Regions from separate parts of the Homo sapiens genome. Here region 2 is linked to region 1. The links come from fine-mapping of genetic effects on gene expression. Tissue or cell type: gastroesophageal junction. Region 1 holds a variant in brackets; the other region holds the start of a gene. All regions are shown on one strand. Distances are from middle to middle.

Region 1 (2,758 bases):
ACAGAGGGAGACACTGTCTCGAAAGGGAAGGAAAGGAGAAAAGACAGAAAAGAAAGAAAGAGAGAAAGAGGGAAGGAACGAAGGAAGGAGAGAGAGAAAGAAAAGAGGGAGGGAGGGAAGAGAAAGAAAAAGAAAGAAAAGGAAAGGAGGAGAAAGAGAAACAAAAAGGAAGGAAGGAAGGAATGATGGAAGGAAGGAAAGAAGAAAGAAAATTAATGAATGCAAAACATATTCATGTTATGTGATACGGTGGATGCAGAAGTGGATTGTGTCTGGGCCCTGTCCTCCAAGTGGGAACACAGCCAGTTGGAAAGATCAGGGCAGTAAAATCCAGAGACTGTGGGAACCCAGAATGAAGAACAATGTCAGCCAGAGGTTGAGGCTGCAGTGATTGCACTACTGCACTCCAGCCTGGGCGACAGTGAGACCCTGTCTCAAAATCAAAACAAAACAAAACAATCAGGGAGCATTTGGATCTGGGAAAATAAAAGGAGCTAGAAGAGCATTTTGGGCAGAGGAAGCGGCTTGGCACAAATGCATGAAAGTTGAAAAGTACAAGAAGTCTGGGGGACAAACTCCAGCCAGGGTGGAAGAGGATGTGGTGGTGGGAAGAACGTGGTGGGAGAGGACAGTGGGAAGGCCAGCTCGTCCAGCTCACGGGGGGTTTGGTCAACCTGGGGATATGGGGAGCCTCAGAAGGACTGAAAGGATGGGGTAGGAGCTAGGAATCATCCCTCTGGGAGATGGGTTACAGGGGTGGAGAGCAGCTGCCTCGGGAGTCCTCCAAGCAATGAGGGTGAGACCTAAGCTGGGGCCTGGGCGGTGGGGCTGAAAAATAGATGGACTAGACAGAGAGGATCAGGAAGCAGAAAGGATAGGACATGGTGGTTGACGGGCTTGGAGGTGAGAGACAGGGAAGTGTACAGGGCAAAGTCCAGGACTCTGGCCTGGTGACCAAAGGGACAGCAAGACAAACAGTGTGGAGAAGGGAGTTGCTGAGGTCAGCCAGACTCCTGGGTCAGAGGGAGGAGGGGCTGGGGCCTGGATTCCTGGATCTAAGGAAGGAGGATCTGGGGGTCTGGACTTCTGGGTTTGAGGGAGGAGGAGCTGGGGGTCTGGACTCCTGGGACAGAGGGAGAAGGGGCTGCGACCGAGATTTCTGGATCTGGGTGAGAAGGGAGTATGAAGTAGCCAGTACCCTAGGAAGAAGAGCACATTTCTGTCTCAGGAGAGAGGGCCTGGGAGAAATATGTGATCTTTGAGGATAAATGAGGGCCTAGGACCCAGCCTCATAAAATTCCAACATACACGACACTTGCAAAGAAAAAAACTGACAAAATCACAAGTCACCATTTTCCAACCTATAATGGTAACTGACCCAAGCAATGACCACTGATGGATGTTACAATCTTCAGATAAAAGATTCTTTTTTTTGAGATGGAGTTCTGCTCCCGTTGCCCAGGCTGGAGTGCAGTGGTGTGATCTTGGCTCCTGGGAGCTGCAACCTCCACCTCCCGGATTCAAGCAATTCTCCTGCCTCAGCCTCCCGAATAGCTGGGATTACTGGTGCCTGCCACCACGCCCAGCTAATTTTTTGTATTTTTAGTAGAGATGGGGTTTCATCATGTTGGCCAGGCTGGCCTCGAACTGCGGTGGCTCATA[C/T]CTGTAATCCCAGCACTTTGGGAGGCCAAGGCGGGCAGATCACCTGAGGTCAGGAGTTCGAGACCAGCCTGACCAGCATGGAGAAACCCCATCTCTACTGAAAATACAAAATTACCCGGGCATGGTGGTGCATGCCTGTAATCCCAGCTACTGGGGAGGCTAAGACAGGAGAATCGCTTGAACCTGGGAGGCAGAGGTTACGGTGAGCCAAGATCACGCCATTGCACTCCAGCCTGGGCAACAAGAGCGAAACTGTGTCTCGCAAAAAAAAAGAGACTAGGGTGATCTTATTAGGTCGGGACAACCAGAGATGAGGTTCCCAACACTGGCTCAGGAAGCACTAAAGCACTTCTGAATACGATCAAACCTCTCCCTCTAACCAACACCCACTTGCAGAAACAGAGGCATGTTCAAGGGCACCACAGGCATGCGATCAGCCATGCTCTGCCTATAGGACAGAAGACTGGATTTTTCCAATAAACAGTATGGGGAAGACACAGCGGGTAGGAACCACCAGAGATAAAACAATGGGCAAGACGTATCAGCCAATCACACTGAACTTTGGGGACTTCATTCAAACAAGCCACCTGTTAACTGGCATTTTGAGACTGTCTGGGAAACACAAAAACTAACCAGAAATAAGACAATACTAAGAACTTATTAATTTTTTATTTTTGAGACAGGGTCTTGCTCTATCGCCCAGGTTGGAGTGCAATGTTATAATCACAGCTCACTGCAGCCTCTACCTTCTGGGCTCAATTGATCCTCCCACCTCACTCTTCTGAGTCTGAGGCCACAGGCACATGCCACCATGCCTGGTTAATTTTTGTATTTTTATTTTTCACAGAAACGGTGTCTTATTATAATATTGCCAGGCTGGTCTCATAGTCTTGGCCTCAAGCGATCCTCCCACTTTGCCCCGCCCCCCGTACCCCCCCCCCACCCCGCAAGTACTGGGATTACAGGTGTGAGCCACTTGGCCCAGCCTAAAAGGATTTCTTATCTGTCAATGATACACTCTAAACATATGTACAGACCATATGATGTCTGGGATTGGCTTTTAAAACTGGGGACGAGAACAAATTGGAGATAATGA
Region 2 (2,629 bases), 27 kb after region 1:
CAGATGCTCCTTCCTCAAACGGAGGTTTCCGCAAGACAGGACTGGGTCTCTTTCCTTCTCAGCCCTGCCCTCAGAATTCCAGCCCCTAATCAACTTTTATGGAGATGCATGCCAGGCCAAAGGGCTGCCCCTAAGCTTTAGGAAGGAAACTCCTTAAATGCTGTTGACTTAGGAGTTCCGCCAGTGCCCCACCTGCCCAGAGCCTCTTGCCCCAGTGCCCCACCTGGGTTTATGGTGCCCCCCTCCCAGAAATATGAGCTCAGGGGTCAGAAACCCAGGTCCTGAGGTCCCTCCTCCCCAAGGACTCAGGATCCCAGGCCCCCAGTCCCCTCTTCCCTTAAGTTTAAGAAGTCCAGGCCACCACCCTCTTGGGGACCCAGCACCCAACTCACGAAGCGCCCGAAGCGGATGGAGTCTCCATCCTCAATGTGTAAGTCAGCCTGGGCCCCACTAAGGCGGGAGATGACAGACTGGCAGCCAGGGAGGAGGGAACGGAGCAGCCCCGAGCCTGTAATGTGGTCCGCGTGGCAGTGGGTATTCACTGGGAGAGAGAGGAGGGACAGGTCCGGAGGGTACAGAAAGGACCTGGGAGTCCCAGCCCAGATCCTTCTCCCTCAGACTCAGGAGTTCTGGGCCCCAGCTTCCCATTCCACTGACGCTGCAGCCCAGCCCCGCTGGGATCCATGAGTTTGGTCCCCGGACTGACCAGCATAGAGCAGCCGCAGCCCCAGCTCCTTGATCAGCTGGGCATCCCGAGGCGCTGTTTCCAGGACTGGGTCGATCAGAACGGCCTCCCGGGACTCTCTGTCACCCAGCAGGTACGTGAAGGTGCAGCTCACAGGCTCGAACATCTGGGAACGGGGGACCCAGGTGAGGGCGCAGAACCGGACTTCCACCCACTGGAGGCCAAGTAGTCCAGACTGACCCTATCCTCTTCCTAAGATCCAGAAGCAGAAACCCCAGCCCACTCTTTCCCCGGGAGTCGGGAGTCCGGAGCCCCACTACCTTCCCCTATCAGAACAAAAGAGTTCCAACTTCCTAACATCCCAAAATCAGGGTCCCCAGCACGTTCTTTCATAGAGGACCCAGGGGTCTGGCCCCAAGCCCAGAGGCCCCCAGACCACTCACCTTTAAAGGACCCAAGAGTCCAGCCCTAAACCTCCACCCCGCTTTCCGCAAGATGCAGGCGTGGGTCCCCCCGGATCTCTCCCTATTAAGAGACCCCGGAGTTCCGTCCTTGCTGCCGCCTAGTGCCCAGCAGTCCCCTCCTAGGTCCAGCCACCCGCACCTGCCGCAGGAGGATGGGGGCTCCAGACCCGCCGCGCTGGCTCAGCTGCCGCCGGGCGACCCTCAGTACAGCCTCCGCCATCGCGCCCACTGCGGGGTCAGGAATGAGCGGAGGCCGAGCGCCTGCAGGAGCCGGGCGCTACGGCACTGACCCCGGGAAGGGCGGGGCGGGGGCGGAGCACGCCTTAAAGGGGCCACGGACGCCTGGGGCAGAGGGCGGGGGACCGCCGAGCGGGACTGGGGCGAGGGCGAGACCGAGGAAAGCCAGAGTGCAATGCCTGGACGCTTTGAGACCCAGAAAAAACAGAGAACAGGGAGACACTCAAAGTGCGAGGGACAGACGCTCAGAGACACACAGACATACTCATGTAGGAACAGAGATAGGGAGAGAAGTAGAAACCCAGGGAGAGGCCCCAGTACACTCATAGCCTCGGGGCCGTTTTTTTTCCTTTTTCTTTTGTTTTATTTTGAGACAGAGTCTCGCTCTGTCACGCAGGCTTGAGTGCAGTGACTCGATCTCAGCTTACTACAGCCTTAAACTCCCGGGTTCAAGCGATCCTCCAACCTCAGCCTCCCGAGTAGCTGGGACTATGGCACGTTGCCACCACACCCGACATTTTATATATATATATTTATATCTATATATATATTTATATACATATATATATATACACACACACACACACATACATGTATATAAAATTTGTTTTTTGCAGAGACGGAGTTCTCACTATGTTGCCCAGGCTGATCTCGAACTCCTGAGCTCAAGCGTTCCTCCCACCTTGTCCTCCCAAAGTGCTGGGATTACAGACGTGAGCCACCGCGTCCCGTGGGGCCGTTTTCTAGCAGGTGGTAGGATAGTCATGGTTAGAAAAAGATGTTCGGTTCCGGGAGGCAGAGGTTGCAGTGAGTAGAGATGACGCCACTGCACTCCAGCCTGGGCGACAGAGGGAGACTCTGTCTCAAAAAAAAAAGATATTCGTTCGGTTCCAGGTCATTAATATCTTGAGGGACTTTTGAGTGGGTGCCTGGTTACCAGAACAACACTTGATCCCATTAAAGTTCATCCAGAAATTGCATAAGCATTTTATCAGGAATGTTTCTCTCTTTCCAGGAAGAAATCTTAAAAAAAAAAAAAAAGATAATTTTGCATTATCTCTTGAATAATCAGATTGGGGATTATTCATCTTCTGTTGGGGTGTGAACCTCTGAAAAGAGCTTGTGTTCATTTACACCAAGGACCTGGGGCTGAAAAACTGTAGTCTCAAGTCATGAGCTGTCAGAAAGTCTGCTCTTTGTAATCGTAGCAGTAGTGAGAATAGGACATCCCACTCTCATCTGG

The links. PIP is the estimated chance that this variant, and not a neighbour inherited with it, causes the effect.
Region 2: ETHE1 starts here. The variant in region 1 is fine-mapped to the expression of ETHE1 in gastroesophageal junction (GTEx, PIP above 0.99). The same link has a PIP of 0.9 or more in breast, esophagus muscle, lung, nasal epithelium and skeletal muscle.

Annotation. Positions count from the first base shown.
Region 1 is chr19:43,498,317-43,501,074 of GRCh38, forward strand. All of the region lies in intron 4 of PHLDB3 (pleckstrin homology like domain family B member 3), which reads right to left. Among named protein-coding and RNA genes, the nearest start is that of PHLDB3, 5.0 kb to the right of the region's middle. RefSeq lists an enhancer at 781-1,075. The variant C/T (reference allele first, on the strand shown) is at 1,663.
Region 2 is chr19:43,525,809-43,528,437 of GRCh38, forward strand. ETHE1 (ETHE1 persulfide dioxygenase) reads right to left here and starts at 1,393. Exons shown (of 7, transcript NM_014297.5): 1 at 1,289-1,393; 2 at 707-851; 3 at 393-541. The coding sequence starts at 1,369. RefSeq lists silencers at 1-4, 1,355-1,544 and enhancers at 39-544, 545-1,049, 565-744.